2 separate regions of the Homo sapiens genome follow, and region 2 is linked to region 1. A link means that fine-mapping ties the variant in region 1 to the expression of a gene that starts in the linked region. Tissue or cell type: whole blood. Region 1 holds a variant in brackets; the other region holds the start of a gene. All regions are shown on one strand. Distances are from middle to middle.

Region 1 (8,185 bases):
GCTGGCGTCATCCAAGATATACATTATTGGATCACTTTTGCCTGACTCAATTCTGGTAGAGCCTTCCAGTTAGCCCATAAATGAAACCTCCCATTTGGGTGAGAGGAAAGTCAGCCCCACCTGGCAGGAAACTCATGCCTGCTTATGTCAGAGGACACAGGGAGCACAGCTTCCTCCTTGGAGATTGGTCCCTGGTCATCACCCTGACAATCTCATCAACAGCCTGAGGATGTTATCAGACATCAGACTAAATCCTTAGAATGTGTGTCGATGCACACTGCCCACTCTATACACAGCATCACTTCTATTAATGGAACCTCCATTCTCCTGTGACCCGGGTTGAAAATCAGCAAGTTGGTTTTGATTCCTCTTTTTCCCACTTCTCCCATATGCTTGCAGTCACAGATTCTGGCAGCTATGACTTTTTAATATTTCCTAGGCTTAACCCATTCTCTCCCTCTTCCCAACCCTCTCTTTTGTCATTAGTTCAGACCCTCATCATTGCACCTCAAGGATATTATGAAATGATACAATTGGTCTCTCTAGCTCACCCCACTAAGATTCAGTTCACTCACTGTTACCTGAATAACAAGTCTAAAATGTTATTTTTACTGTGCTACCCTCCTGACGAAAAATGTATAGTGCCCACTCATGAGCTTGAAGCAGGTAATGATTAAGGGCAGGAACTCCCCAGCGTGCTCAGTTGTGTGACATTGAACAACAACTCACTCTTCTCTAAGCCTCCATTTCTCACCTGTTACAAGGGAATAGTCACAGGTTATAAGTAAAAATAGGTCAGGCACGGTGGCTCACACCTGTAATCCCAGCAATTTGGGAGACCAAGGCGGGTGGATCACTTAACGTTAGGAGTTCAAGACCAGCCTGGCCAACATAGTGAAACCCTGCCTCTACTAAAAATACAAAAATTAGCCATGTGTGGGGGTGCACACTTGTAATCCCAGATACTTGGGAGGCTGAGGTAGAAGGATCACTTGAACCTGGGAGGCGGAGGTTGCAGTGAGCCAAGATGGTGCCACTGCACTCCAGCCTGGACAACAGAGCAAGATTCATCTGTAAATAAGTAAATAAAGTATCAGCTTCAATGGGTTATTGTGAAAATTAAATGAGATATCGTGCATGTAAAATGCTCACCACAGTTCCTGCAATACAGTAAGTACTCAATAATCATTACCCCTGTTATTAATATTGGAAATAGCTTAGTTGGTGGGAAAAGGAAGAAGAGAAATAGTATAGTGGCTACGGAGGCTAAAGAAAGATGTGATTTACTTCAAGACTAGGGAAGTCTGTCAGGTTTGAAAGTCAAGTGGAAAGACTCAGAGAAGATGAGAGAATTGCATCTTGGAGGATGGAATTTAGGAGATAGGGCCAGTGGTAAATCTTGGAAAGCCTGTATTAGACTGGGAGGCAGAGGGGGAGGATTTTTATTAACAGCCATACATTTGAGATCTTAAAACCTCAAATCTTTGAGGTTCTGCTCAAACTATGTTAACTGCAGAAATCCACTGGAAATGTATCACAGTGGCTAAGAGCTTTTGCCCTGGTCTCAGACTGCCTGAGTTGTGTTGCAGATTTTGCCTCTTTAACTTATTAAACAAACTTAGTCCAATTACTTAACCTCCCTGAGCTCAATGTCTTCTTCATAAAAAGAGCACAGTAATGGAACCACACTACAGAATTGTTTTTGAGGATTCATTGAATTAATGTATGCATAGAATGCTCATTAACCTGCTTGGACATGGTAAGAGGTCAACATGGTTGGCTGCTATGAATTTTATATAATACCCTACATTATAGCCAGAAGTATATTAATCATTTAGCAGTGCTTCTGAATATGTGGTCCAGAGACCCTTCAAGGTCCCTGAGACTCTTTAAAGAGGCAGTCCATGACATTAAAACTATTTTCTTTTTTTTTTTCCAAATTTTTTAAAAAATTATTATTATACTTAAAGTTTTAGGGTACATGTGCACAATGTGCAGGTTTGTTACATATGTATACATGTGCCATGCTGGTGTGCTGCACCCATTAACTCGTCATTTAGCATTAGGTATATCTCCTAAAGCTATCCCTCCCCGCTCCCCCCACCCCACAACAGTCCCCAGAGTGTGATGTTCCCCTTCCTGTGTCCATGTGTTCTCATTGTTCAGTTCCTACCTATGAGTGAGAATATGCAGTGTTTGGTTTTTTGTTCTTGCAATAGTTTACTGAGAATGATGATTTGCAATTTCATCCATGTCCCTACAAAGGACATGAACTCATCATTTTTTATGGCTGCATAGTATTCCATGGTGTATATGTGCCACATTTTCTTAATCCAGTCTATCATTGTTGGACATTTGGGTTGGTTCCAAGTCTTTGCTATTGTGAATAGTGCCGCAATAAACATACGTGTGCATGTGTCTTTATAGCAGCATAACACTAAGACTTTATTTGCCTTTTTCACTCTTAGTCTCCTATGAATATAAAATGGTGTTCTCCAGGGGTTTTGTGATGTGTGATATCACAATAAATTGAAACAGTATGAAAATTCAGCTTTTTGCTAATAAGCCAGAGATTAAAGAGTTGTGCAAAAAAAAAATTAGGCTGGGTACAGTGGCTTATACCTGTAATCCCAGCACTTTGGGAGGCCAGGGCGGGTGGATCACTTGAGGTCAGGAGTTTGAGATCAGCTTGGCCAACATGGTAAAATCCCATCTCTACTAAAAAATACAAAAATTAGCTGGGTGTAGTCGTGCACACCTGTAATCCCAGCTACTCTGGAGGCTGAGGCATGTGAATCACTTGAACCTGGGAGCTGGAGGTTGCAGTAAGCCAGGGCCAGGCCATTGCACTCTAGCCTGGGTGACGGCAAGACACTGTCTCAAAAAAAAAGTTAAATTATACCATTCTTCTCATGAAATATTTCATTGTTTGGGAAAATGTTTTTCATAAGAGATTTTTAATATTTTAAAAATGTCTCCCTTTTAGTTTATATAACTGTTAATGTCAATGCCTATAACTCATATAAACAAAAGCTCTTTGGCTTCCTCGATAATTTTGAGACTGTAAAGAGCTCCCGAGACCAAAAAGCTTGAGGTGACTGTCATAGAGTATTGCTCAGATAAAATCAAGATTAAAGCTAAATCTATCCTGTGAGTATAAGGATTTTTCATCTCTGGCTAAAGGTCAGCAGCTGGATTAATATAAAGAAATACTTTCTCTACAGAGTTTGGAACTCTGACCCTTATCTCCTCATTTTTAAGCACAATGCATGTATATTTTCCTGAAAAAGGTGATCTCAGGTTCCTAAAGTTGCCGTTAGAAGTTAGACTAGTGGCCTCACCCTAGCCCACAGCAGGGAAGTACATAGGAAGCCTCCCTGCTCTGAAAATGTGTTTTGTTTGATAACAGCTAATGCAATCCAAAAGCTCATCCGTATCAGCCTGTCTCAGGCTGGTGGCTCATCTCAACAATTGCTCATTCATCTGCGTTTAAAGATGAAATTATTTTGTTTTTAGTGGCCAATCCATCTAAATTATAAATCCATATTATCTTTTGTAGCAAAGCCGTGGAGGAAATTGTGAATACTGGTGTCACAGTTATTAAGGATGAGAAGACCAGTGTGGCCCGACTGATGAGGGAAAAAGAACATGAAATGAGCATCCTCTATGGCATAGCTCAGAGGCAGAGGCAAGAAGAGGTACAGGAAGTGCTTCAAGAAGCAGAGAAAACACATCAGGCCACTCTTGGCAATATGATGGATAAACTGGCTAACACCCAGGGGGAGCTGCTGTCTATAGCAAAACAACTGGGAATCATGACAAATTGGAAAGATTTCCTAGAGGAGGAATTACAGGAAACCAGGATGGCATTTCAAAAATACATCAATTATACCTTTCCTAAGCTTTCACCAGGACATGCAGATTTTATTCTGCCAGAAAGAAAGAAAACACCTTCTAATCTTGTTATTAAGGAGAACAAAACAACTCTTGATTAGAAGTCTT[C/T]AGTTGAAATTCCACTACAAAAGACATCATTCCAGACTAAATAAATTTACTCAAAAACCATGTATTGATTCCCCAGCCTTGTGCAGGGTACTATTGGGCTATAAGAATTTTCATGGAAAACCAAAATATTAAAAAGCACATTCCAGATTATATTGAGCCAAGTCTGAGAAGAAAAAATAGTGAGAGGTAGCAAACTGATTAAGAGGGGAAAGGTTTCTTGGATGAAGCCTAAACACACTTCTGTATCTGTCTTTATTCATTTCTACATCAGACATATAATTAATTATTTCAGCATTTATTGCCATAGAAAACAAGTAAAGGAAAGTGTTCTTAGGTTGTTCCTGTTTTGGGCAGGTGTGCTAAGTTCCAGTAGACAGTTTATCATTTGGTGAATGCAGTAGCATTGTGAATTTAAAAAAGCAATTTCTCTCAAATTCAGTAGGATAAAATTTAAATTCTGGGACTCCCATATAAAGTAATTCAGGAAGGACTTGCTACCCACACAACAAGCAGGTTCAGTCACTTGGTGGGTGTCAACTCAATGACCACAACCAAAGAAGATTTAGCAAGGGGATTTTATTACTTATAAGGAGTAAGGAGAACACCAGGGATAGTCCCCAAAGCAGTGTCTGCCTGAGCTGGGGGCTGGGTCAGGTTTTATAAACATAGGGTAATGAGGCATGATCTGACTGGGTCTTGCAATGAGGGGATGTCAGGAGGCATGATCTAACTGGATCCTGCCATGGGGTGATGCCAAAGCTCAATCCAGTTGGATTCTGGATCCTGCCATGCAGTGTCCACTTCTTAATTCAGTTCCCACTCCTGAGTCAGAGCAATCAGGTTCCCTCTGTGGTTGAACACTTGGTCCATCTGGGCATGCTCAGATTACATGACCTGAGGGTCCATGGCAACTGAAAAACACTGTACTACTTTGTTACGTGAAAGTTGGGCCACATGGGTCTGGTATGGCTACAGACTCATCTATATTTGCCAGTTGTAAAAGAAAAAAAGATGGGAGATATTTCTCAAATCCACCTCTCTGAGAACTCAGAGGGTAGGGTTTTTAAAGGATAATTTGACAGGCAGGGGGCTGGGGAATGGGTGCTACTGATTGGTTGGAGATGAAATCACAGGAGTGTTGGAACTGTCTTCGCATGCCGAGTCAGCTTCTGGGTGGGAGTTACAGGACCAGTTGATTTATTTCCTTGGTATGAGTCATGGGTCCAAGTGGTGTCAGTTCATCAGGATGCAAACATCTGAAAAATATCTCAAAGAACAATCTTAGGTTTTACAATAGTGATGTTATCTGTAGGAACAATTGGGAAAGTTACAACTCTTGTGACCTCTGGCGACATGACTCCTGAGTAGTAAGCAAGCTAGGGAACATGGCTGGTTATCACTGAACTATGCATAGGTCTTAGCAGAATTCAAGCTCCTCCCATAATTCTAACCTTTTGGCCTTTCATTCATTTTACAAAGGTGGTTTTAGTCCCTGAACTAGGAGGAGGGTAGTTTTGGGAAGGGGCTGTTATCTTCTTCGCTTTAATGTTAAACAATAAATTCCTCCCATGGTTAGCTTGGCCTGCACTCAGGAATGAGCAAGGGCAATAAGCTTGTGAGGTTAGAAGCAAGATGGAGTCTGCTATGTTAGATTTCTCTCACTGTCATAAGTTTTGCAAAAGTGGTTTCAGAACCCTAATCCTTCCAGCAAACATGGGCAGGGAGCCAAGAATGATGGGGAGCAGAACTGGACGCCCTTCTCTGAACATACTGGATGTACTCTCCTGATGTCAAGCCCCACGGGTGAATGTGTGGAGGGGTACACTCTGTAGCTCCCTCCCACCATCCTAATGTCAGGAAGGACAGATTTGCCCTCAGGGTTCTGGAGAGAGACTAATTGCCTGTGGCAAGATGAGAATAGCAAAGTCAAGTGAAAATTGAAAGTGAGTTATGTTTCTGAATTCTCATTGGGACCCTCACGCCTGGTTTTCTACTGAAACTTGACTGAGACAGAGATTAAGTCAGACTATTTTTTAAAAGATTCCCTGAGTGAACCAATTTTTAGCATAATTTGAGAAGAGAACAGTAACTCTCCGGATACTGTTTCCTTTGAGTACAATACCTAGAGAGGCCTTTATAGATCTTAGATACTATGCCCCATATAAATTATTAAAGTTGTAAGCATTTTAGAGAGTTACTTTAAAGAGAACTTAAAGAAGTCCATTTTTCTTAGTTGTCTTAGATGCTACCTGTACAGTAAGAGTGCATGCAGTTCACATGGTTTCTGGTAATTAGGAAGCTGTGTTAACTCCTGGAGGCCAACTGGGAAGGCCTCTAAGACTGAGGACTCTAAGAAATCATTGCAGTTTAATTTTCTGGAATTTATGCTACCAAGACATGAACTTTTTGGAGTAAAGGAACTTGCGCACTACGAAACAGATGTATAGCATCACTCGGACAGATGGAGAAGCCTCCATCCTAGTCACAAAGCACAAGGAGTTGGGCAGTTTAGTAATCACTGGACTTTTATGTTACCAAGAAGTCACTCTGATGGTTTCTTTCTCCAACTCTGATTTCATCTGATTTATTTAAAGCTTGTGTGTTTTAGGCCAGCCATGGTGGCTCACGCCTGTAATCCCAGTGCTTTAGGAGGCTGAGGTGGGCAGATCGCTTGAGCCCAGGAGTTCAAGACTAGCCTGGGCAACATGGTGAAACCCCGTCTTTACAAAAAGTACAAAAACTAGCTGAGTGTGGTGGTGCGCACCTGTAGTTCCAGCTACTCAAGAGGCTGAGGTGGGAAGATTGATTGAGCCTGGGAGGTTGAGGCTGCGGTGAGCCATGATCCTGCCACTGCACTCCAGCTTGGACAACTGTATTAGTCTGTTTTCACACTGCTGATAAAGACATACCAAAGAGTGGGTAATTTATAAAGAAAAAGAGGTTTCATGTACTCACAGTTCCACGTGGCTGGGGAGGCCTTACAATCATAGCGGAAGGCAAAAGGCACATCTTATATGGCAGCAGATAAGAGAGAATTGGGAACCAAGTAAAAGGGGTTTCCCTTATAAAACGATCAGATCTCGTGAGACTTATTCACTACCACGAGAACAGTATAGGGGAAACCGCCCCCATGGTTCAATTATCTCCCACCAAGTTCCTCCCACAATATGTGGGAATTATGGGAGCTACAATTCAAGATGAGACTTGGGTGGGGACACAGCCAAACCATATCATTCTGCCCCTGGCCCCTCCCAAATCTCATGTCCTCACATTTCAAAACCAATCATGCCTTCCCAACAGTCCCCCAAAGTCTTATTTCAGCATTAACTCAAAAGTCCACAGTCCAAAGTCTCATCTGAGACAAGGCAAGTCCGTTCTGCCTATGAGCCCATAAAATCAGAAGCAAGTTAGTTAATTCCTAGATACAGTGGGGGTACAGGCATTGGGTAAATACAGCCATTCCAAATGGGAGAAATTGGCCAAAATAAAGGGGCCTTAGGCTCCATGCAAGTCCATAATCCAGCAGGGCAGTCAAATCTTAAAGCTCCAAAATCATCTTTGACTCCATGTCTCACATCCAGGTCACACTGATATAAGAGGTGAGCTCCCATGGCCTTCGGCAGTTCAGCCCCTGTGGCTTTGCAGGGTATAGCCCCCCTCCTGGCTGCTTTCATAGGCTGATGTTGAGTGTCTGCAGCTTTTCCAGGTTCACAGTGCAAGCTGTCTGTGGATTTACCATTCTGGGGTCTGGAGGATGTGGCCCTCTTCTCACAGCTCCACTGGGCAGTGCCCCAGTGGGGACTCTGTGTATGGGGGCTTCAACTCCACATTTCCCTTCTGCACTGCCCTAGCAGAGGTTCTCCATGAGGGCCCTGCCCCTGCAGCAAACTTCTGCCTGGACATCCAGGCGTTTCCATACATCCTCTGAAATCTAGGTGAAGGTTCCCAAACCTCAATTCTTGATTTCTGTGCACCTGCAGACTCAACACCATGTGAAAGCTGCCAGGGCTTGGGGCTTGCATCCTCTGAAGCCATGCCCTAAGGTATACCTTGGCCCCTTTTAGCCATGGCTGGAGTGGCTGGGAAGCAGGGCACCAAGGCCCTAGGCTGCACAAAGCAGGGGGATCCCTGGGCCCAGACCACAAAACCATTTATTCCTCCTAGAACTCCGGGCCTGTGATGG
Region 2 (8,185 bases), 21 kb before region 1:
GAGAAGCAAGAGTCTTCTATAATCTCTAGATAATCAGTAGCTTAGCTAATTGAATAAAGAACTGAATAAATGATTTTAATTGAAATATTGCCATGGTAATGCTAGTGTTGTAATAAAGATGTGGCATGTCAGGAGGAAAGTGCAACCGATATTTGGGTCTCCTCAAATTGTTAGTCTTACTAAAGCTTTATAATTTTTTTTTCTTTGACAGAACAAACCTGTAATGGCTTTCGGATTGGTAACTCTTTCACTTTGCGTGGCATATATTGGTTATCTACATGCAATACAAGAGAATAAAAAGGACCTCTATGAAGCTATTGATAGTGAGGGGCACAGTTATATGAGGCGGAAAACATCCAAATGGGATTAGTAGTGCTGGTTAGTGCAGATGGACCTTTATTAAAGGTTCTGAAATCTTCAAATGAAAGACCTTGTGAGTGTACAGTATCATGTTTCTTGTTCTAGAACATGCTAATGAAGAGAGAAGATAGCAGTTGCAACCAGACAACTGTCGTAAATTTTGTCCTTTCACAGCTGCAGCCATTATCTCATTCTTTTTCCACAGAGTGAGCGTCATAATATTTTTCTTTCCTTACCTCTTATAAAAGTGCCATGAGAATGGAAGTTGTTTTTGTTAATTATTAAATTCTGTATAATAAAAGTACCCATGCTGTTAAATTTGCATGATGTTTTAAATATTTTAAGATGAATTATGCCGGTGCAGCTGTCGTGAAAGTTTACTTGTGTTTTGCTACTTGCAAAGGAAATGTTCATGTTCTCCCTGGCATAGAACCTATATTTTTAAAGAAAGATAAATAGAAATTTTAAGGCCTGAAGTCAATATTAAAAATATGAGATATGAGAAACTGAGTTGGCTCTGACAAGTAGTTTTTATAGTGTCACAAATGGTTCATATATTTCAGTTTCCATTTTAGCTATTTTTGGGACAGAATTTTATTTTAATGGAAAAGATCCTTCCACTCAGCTACTAAAATAAGGATTAAGAATATCCCAGAGTAATTGGAGTTTTTCTTTAAAAAAAAAAAAAAAGTATGTTTTACTGAGGTATGATGATTTTGACTACAACTAAATGTTATCTATTTTAGTGTTTATGTTAATTAATGTTAATTAATTTTGTTTATGTTAATTTGTGTTAATTAATGTTACTGTAATGTTATAAACATAAGACCAAGTGTTCTTATAGTTATTTAAAAACTACAACTACTCAATGGATAAGGAATAGATAAGGTCTCCTTATTGTACCTTTTTTTTCTTTTGAAGTTTATATGCCAGCAGGCCTTTTTGTTTTTTTCCTTTTCAGAATGTTTCTTATTCTCTGAAGCATCAGCATTTTGAAGTGTCTTTTATGGAAGTGGGGACAGAAATGGGGGTAAAAATGAGTGTAAACAAAGCCTAGCCCTACGGTCAGTACCCACTGGAGGTGAGAAGCAGAATGGCCTTGGTTGTCCTGGCACCTGGCCCAGGGGCCTAGGACAGAGGTCAAGGCTAGGCCCCTGTGTCTGGCCAGATTCTGCCTTATAGAATTCAAATCTTTCTTACAAGGGTTCTGGACCCGTTTCATTTCTAGATATATACCTAATTCTCCAAATCATTGTCATTGGGCCTCAGTAGTAAATCTTACCTCTGAAGTCTTGCTTCAGTCGCTATTAATATTACCAAGTAATAATAACAGCACAGGCAGAGTTTATCATAATGTTATTTTTAATTTGTCATACTTTATTATGGTTTTGTAAGGTACATGAAAATGTAATTATGTGTGATTTGTAGGTATTAAAGAACTTAGCTAATTGAATTTACATGAAACTAAATAAAATCTTTACTACTGAGCCCCAAATATGTATTTGCTATGCCTGTCTGTATAATGTACTTCATATAGTTTAAAATGCACTTCAGTGATACAAAATCCCTTTTAAAGACTCTTTTGTTTTTGTTTTCCCTGTGTATTTTGGCTATCACAAAACTAGGGTTCTTCTGTTTTTAACTTATGCATTTAATGACACATTGCCATCTTTTAGAATTTTTTACTATTCAACAGAATAAGCTGATGTTTGGTGGCAGAGGAGTTATTAGTTGCGTGAACTGTCAAGAGATTGCAGTGCAGGAGGGCAACAGAAACTGTACAAGGTGCAGACTTGAGTCATGTAAGATCTATGTGAATGAACCAAAGTAACTAGAGTCAGTCAAGCACAAAGCTGTGAAAAGTAGTGTGTGGAAAGAATCATACTGAATTTTAGGAACAAGTACCTGACTATGATACTTTTTACAGAGTGACTACAAGTTGTAGGACAGTCTTTGTGTGTGCTGAGTGTCAACAGCTGCCTGCCTATGTGTTGATGTTTTCATCCTTTCTTTGTTGAATGAGGGTATAACCATCAAAAATAAAATACCTTTCAAATAGTCCAAAGATTCTGAACATTGAACTTCACCTGATCCAATCCTGTCAGTTTATGGTTAAGACAATAGGCTGAGAATGGCTAAGAGATTTACCAAAGATCAGGGAGATTCTCAGTCAGGAGTAGAACCTGTATCTTCTTGCTCTAAAGTCTAGGGATCTTTTCACCATACTATACCACCTTCTATGTGTAAATGTGCACATAATAATAAAGCAGCCACATTAGCCCTTAAAAATAAGAAGTTTAGATCTTAAGTAGAGAAACACTCCTGTACTTTAAAACAGAATTATGTAAAGGACTGTTAACTGCCAGCTCCCTCACAAGACCATCAGAACAACCTGATGATCAAACAAAACTAAGCTTATTAAATCTACTGCACTAAAGGGAAATACCACTTTTACAAAGTTAGCTGTATTTAAGAATGGGATGGTCAGGGGAAGATATTAAAGTCTTTTGGAAGTCTGAGTTCAAGTGATTAAAGAAGGGTCTTTCAATGCAGGAATCTGGTTGAGAATGGGCAAGGTACCTGACAGAACAGATTAGATCTTGAAGCAAGTCTTGATTAGTAAACTATTGTTCAATAAATGTTAAGTGAACTCTTTGCCCAGGGGAGTAGTCTAATCTTCTGATGGAAGAGCTGTTTGCCTAGATCAGCAAGCTGTCCAATTGATAAATTGTTTTTCAAGGATTTCCTAAGGCAAACACTGAAAGTATTTATTGGTTTTACAGCCTTATCTTCCATAGGAGGCCCAACTCTTCCAATTTGCCAGACACTAAGGAAGTTCAGGACTTTCAGTTTTAAAACAGGGACAGTCCCAGGCAAATCAAGGCCAGTTAGTTATCCTTCCATCTGGGCAAGAATTTCTAGTAACAGATAGGAAAGTTATTGGCACAAGTAGCCTCAGTTCTCAATCCAGATAATTAACTGTGTGGATGCAGTAATCCTCATTCTTCATACTAATTCATCTCTTTGTTTTTAATTCCTCTCCAAGTCCCAGTTAACCCTTTTCTTGAAGTCAAATCTGGCACAATTTGATAGTTACTTAAGGTCTTCAGCCAGTTATCAGGCCGTATGTGTTAATATAAATTATAGAGTAACTTGTGGTACACTTAGCTCAGGGCCCTATGGGAGTCCTGTTGTTGAAATTAATTTCACTGATGGCACTCACTTATTATAAAATAGTCCTGCCAAGTAGATGCAGCATATGACATTGTCAGGCAATTTTATAAATTCAGTTACTTGGTACAATCAGTTGCACAGATTTTTGCGATAGGTGGAATTTCTATGGCTGTTTATCTAAAATTATAGGAACAAATTAGTTAACCATGTGATTTTTAAAACCAGGCTTAGTAATTTTGAATGCTGCCTTAATGAAAGTAATTTCTTCTTCAAGATACCATGATATTTCCCAGTTTTATTACCATGGCACCAACACATCATGTTTATTAAAAACCTAAAAGAAATTAAGCTACCTCCATTGCTGGCCTTAAAAGAAATTAATTCTTTAAAAACTAATTTAAAACAAAGTGTGGTAGGCTGACTAATGCTCTCCTTCCCTGCAAAAATGTCCAGATCCTAATCTCTGGAACCTGTAAATATGGGACTTTACGGATATGGGTAAGTTTAGGATTTTGAGATGGGGAGATTATCCTGGATTATCTAGATGGGGCTGGTATAATCACCAAGGTCTTTAAAGCACGGCAGAAGATCAGAGGAAGAGACAATGTCACTATGGAAGCACTGGGGGAAAAGGCTATATGATGCAAGGCCATGACCCCAAGGAATATGGATGGCCTTTAGAAGCTGGAAAAGGCAAGCAAACACATTCTCCTCTGAAGCCTGCAGAAGGAACCAGCCCTTCTAACAACTTGATTTTAGCCCCTAAGACTCATTTTAGACTTCTGATCTCCAGAAATGCAAGAGGATAAATTTGTGTTACATTTAAACTATGAAGTTTGTGTAGTTTGTCACAGTGGTGCTATGGTTTGAATATTTGTCCCCTGCAAAACTCATGTTGAACTTTAATCCCCAACGTGGTAGTATTGAGAAGTGGGGCCTTTAAGGGGTGAGTGAATTCATTCATGGGTTAAGGGATTGATGGATTATCATGGGAGGAGAACTGGTGGTTTTATAAGAAGAGGAAGAGAGGCCTGAGCTAGCATGTGAGCTCAGCCCCTGGCCATGTCATACCCTATACCACCTCAGGAATCTTCAGTGAGTTCCCACCACCAAGAAGATTCTTACCTGATGCAACTCCTCCACCTTGGACTTCTCAGCCTCCATAAACTGTAAGAAATAATTTCATTTTCTTTATAAGCTATCCAGTTTCAGGTATTCTATTATAAGCAACAGAAAACAGAGTAAGACAGCAGCAATAGGAAACTAATATAGAAAGTATCAGGAAAATGAATGGCTGTATCATGCTCCCTTTTGTCATTATTTGAAGTTGCTTTTATGAGCAAAGCTTGTCTTACCTAGCAACAGTTGCCAAGTAAGTTAACAACTTAATGCTAGAGTCTGGGAAGGAGCAACTACTTAAATCTTCCCAAATCTGGTGCCCATACCTTCTATGGCAGGGGCTTTTAGCACCATTCTTTAACGTTAGACACATAACCACAGCCTAATCACTTGAACCATTTAATCCTTACCAGCCTCTAGCATTATCCTAAAACCCTGAACCTCTTCCAGCTTTCTTAAACTTTCAGCTTTTCTTGAAACGACTTTTTCTGATTCTAAGATTATTTTAACTGTAAGTAGGAGAAGACATCTGAAATTTAACTATGATCAGAAATTCAGATTACAAAAACTTTGTTTGCTGTGCTGTTTGTAATAAAATAATTCCACCAGCCCCTTTTGGAAAAACCTTCAAACGGATCCATGAATACAAGCCACTTAAGACACGCTTTTACACTCACAAAGACATACTAGGTAAGTGACTTTATCGTTTTCCTTTGTTCTAATGCTTCATAGCCTTATGTGTCATTCTTTCTGTTACATAGACTTTTATCAGCTTTTTTCTCTTCAGAGTTGCTTGTCCCTACAGGGATATTTGAGGAGAATATGGGTTGGAATACAGCTTCTCCACTTACAGTTGTATGTATTGGGCAGGGTATTTAGCCTCTCAATCTGTTTCCTTATGTGGAAATAAATATACTAATACCTATCTTACAGGTTGTTATGAGACTTTAATGAAGTATTTGTATCTATTATAAATCCTGGCACATAATAGTAAATGTGAGTTCATTTTGCCCTTGGCCATACTTGAGCACCTTTCAGTATGTGTAGGAGAGGAAATATTATCTCTAAATAACACCCTAATTGGATGGGCACAGTGGCTCACACCTGTAATCCCAGCACTTTGGGTGGTCGAGGTGGGCAGATCACTTGAGGCCAAGAGTTCAAGACCAGCCTGGCCAACATGGCGAAACCCCGTCTCTACTAAAAAAATTTAAGCAGGCATGGTGGCATGCGCCTGTAATCCCAGCTACTCGGGAGGCTGAGGTAAGAAAATTGCTTGAACCCAGGAGGTGGAGGTTGCAGTGAGCTGAGATCGTGCTACTGCACTCTAGCCTGGGTGACAGAGCGAGACTCTGCCTCAAAAAAAAAAAAAAAAAAAAAAAATTTTAAAGTACCCTAATAAATGGGTAAAAGAAACTATATAACCTTTAAATAGTAGCTGGTAGCATAAAAGTAGATACATATAGATAACATGAGGACGTTTACTGTACATACGTATGTATATATAATAAGCAAATCAAATTGTACTATAGGTTTCCATCTCTCTTTTATCCCCGTAAGAGTTTTCAGTCTGACCTTGAGCCTTGTAGGTATTTTCCTAAGAACTCTCACAATACTTCTCTGATCCTCTCTTCCTTTAAAATGGTAAACTAAGGGTGATTTCATTTCACTCCTGATATTTGAAAATATAAGAAGCTGGAGAGCAGAGGTGTTTGGAAAAAAAAACTAAAATGTAGGGGGAGATCAAATTGGAATCATCTTCTAAAAACATCAATTCCAAAATTGTTTCTTAGCATTTAGTAAGTGCTTAGTATGAATGATTCATTATGATCTCTAAAGTGACTTTTCATACCCAGGACAGTGTATCTCCATTCTTAGATATACCTTAATGATTGATTCCTTATGCCTTATGGAATATCTAACCCAAACCTTAAGTGGATAAGTTAAATCTATTGTTAGAAATTAATCTTTTCTATTCAGTGACCTTTGTCATTGAACTGTTTTAAGTTAAAAAAGAAAGAAAGTTGAAATTGTCTGTTCTTTATAAGCATTTTGAAATGTCCGTAGAAGAGCTAGTGAGTATTTCATAGGACGATAGTTCTCAATCCTGGCAGTGCACTATATAGAACTTTGAAAAAAAATATTAATACAGATATCCAAACACAGACCCACTGGATTTAATACTAATCTAACACAGAGCCACTAAATTAGGACCTCTACGGTCAGGACTAAGCATGTGTATTTTTTCCTTCACGTTTAAATAACCTTTTTTATTTCAAGATAGTTTAAGACTCACAAGTTGCAAAATAGATCAGAGTTCCCCTGTACCCTTCATCCAGCTTCCATTGATATCTTACATAATCCTGGCACTTTGTCAAAGCTGGAACACTGGCATTGAAACAATACTATTAACTCAGGTACAGACCTTATGTACACTTTTTTCCCCCGGCATAGAGTTTTATGAAATTTATCATGTGTGTATATTAATGTGCCATCACCACAATCACAACATGGAGCTGTTCCATCACCACAAAGGAACTCCCTCGTGTTACCCCTTAGCTGTCACTCTCTTCTCCCCAAACTTGAACCCCTGACAACCACTAATCTGTTCTCTATCACTATAATTTTATCACTGAGAATGCTATCTAAAGAATCATAGATTATGTAACCCATTGAGATTGGCTTTCTTCACTCAGCACAATGCCCTTGAGATTCATCCAAGTTGTTTATCAATAGTTTGTTCCTTTTACAGTATGTGCATTTTTAAAAAAAGCTTTGCAGGGATCCTGTTGTACAATCAGGGTTGAGAACAACTAATAAAACCAATGGGATTTAAACATAAAAGAGGATAGTGATAGCCTACACTTGTATCACATTTTTATGAAGTTCAATACGTTGATGGTCCATGCTTAGTCACATTTTGTCCTAGAAAATCTTTTCTAATTATTTCTACACAATGTTGGGCTTTTGCAGTATGTGTCCATCTCCACCGTAATATATGCTGCCCTGTGTTTTTAAGATTCGCTGATGAACTAGTAGGAGACTCTGTGCCGCCAAACATATACTTTTAATTGCTAGTGACAGAAACATAACTCAGAATAGACTGCATGAAATGGAATTTCTTGACTCTTTTAACAGAGAAACCCAAGGGAAATCTGGCATCAAGGCTTTCAATCTGTCCATGCTTACCCTTTTAGTGAGTTGGCTTAATGGTTTACTGCTGCAGCTAGACTTACTCCGGCAGCTGGGAAAGGAGGAATGTGGATCCAGATAGCTCTAAGAATCTATTACCTTCAGCTTAGAAATCCCAGAGGAAGACCAGGCATGGTGGCTCACGCCTGTAATCCTAGCACTTTGGGAGGCCGAAGTGGGCAGATCACTTGAGGTCAAGAGTTCGAGACCAGCCTGACCAACATGGTGAAAGCCCGTTTCTACTAAAAATACAAAAATTAGTCAGGCATGGTGGTGGGCGCCTGTAATTCCAGCTACTCGGGAGGCTGAGGCAGGAGAATCACTTGAAACGGGAGGCGGA

Evidence for each region. PIP is the estimated chance that this variant, and not a neighbour inherited with it, causes the effect.
Region 2: it holds the start of C6orf163, and the variant in region 1 is fine-mapped to the expression of C6orf163 in whole blood (TOPMed, PIP above 0.99). The same link has a PIP of 0.9 or more in unexposed skin.

The regions. Positions count from the first base shown.
Region 1 is chr6:87,361,402-87,369,586 of GRCh38, forward strand. It overlaps C6orf163 (chromosome 6 open reading frame 163), which reads left to right. Exons shown (of 5, transcript NM_001010868.3): 5 at 3,560-4,062. The coding sequence ends at 3,995. Among named protein-coding and RNA genes, the nearest start is that of C6orf163, 21 kb to the left of the region's middle. The variant C/T (reference allele first, on the strand shown) is at 4,003.
Region 2 is chr6:87,339,905-87,348,089 of GRCh38, forward strand. It overlaps C6orf163 (chromosome 6 open reading frame 163), which reads left to right and starts at 4,909. Exons shown (of 5, transcript NM_001010868.3): 1 at 4,909-5,343. The coding sequence starts at 5,196. SMIM8 (small integral membrane protein 8) reads left to right here. Exons shown (of 4, transcript NM_001042493.3): 4 at 212-2,425. The coding sequence ends at 370.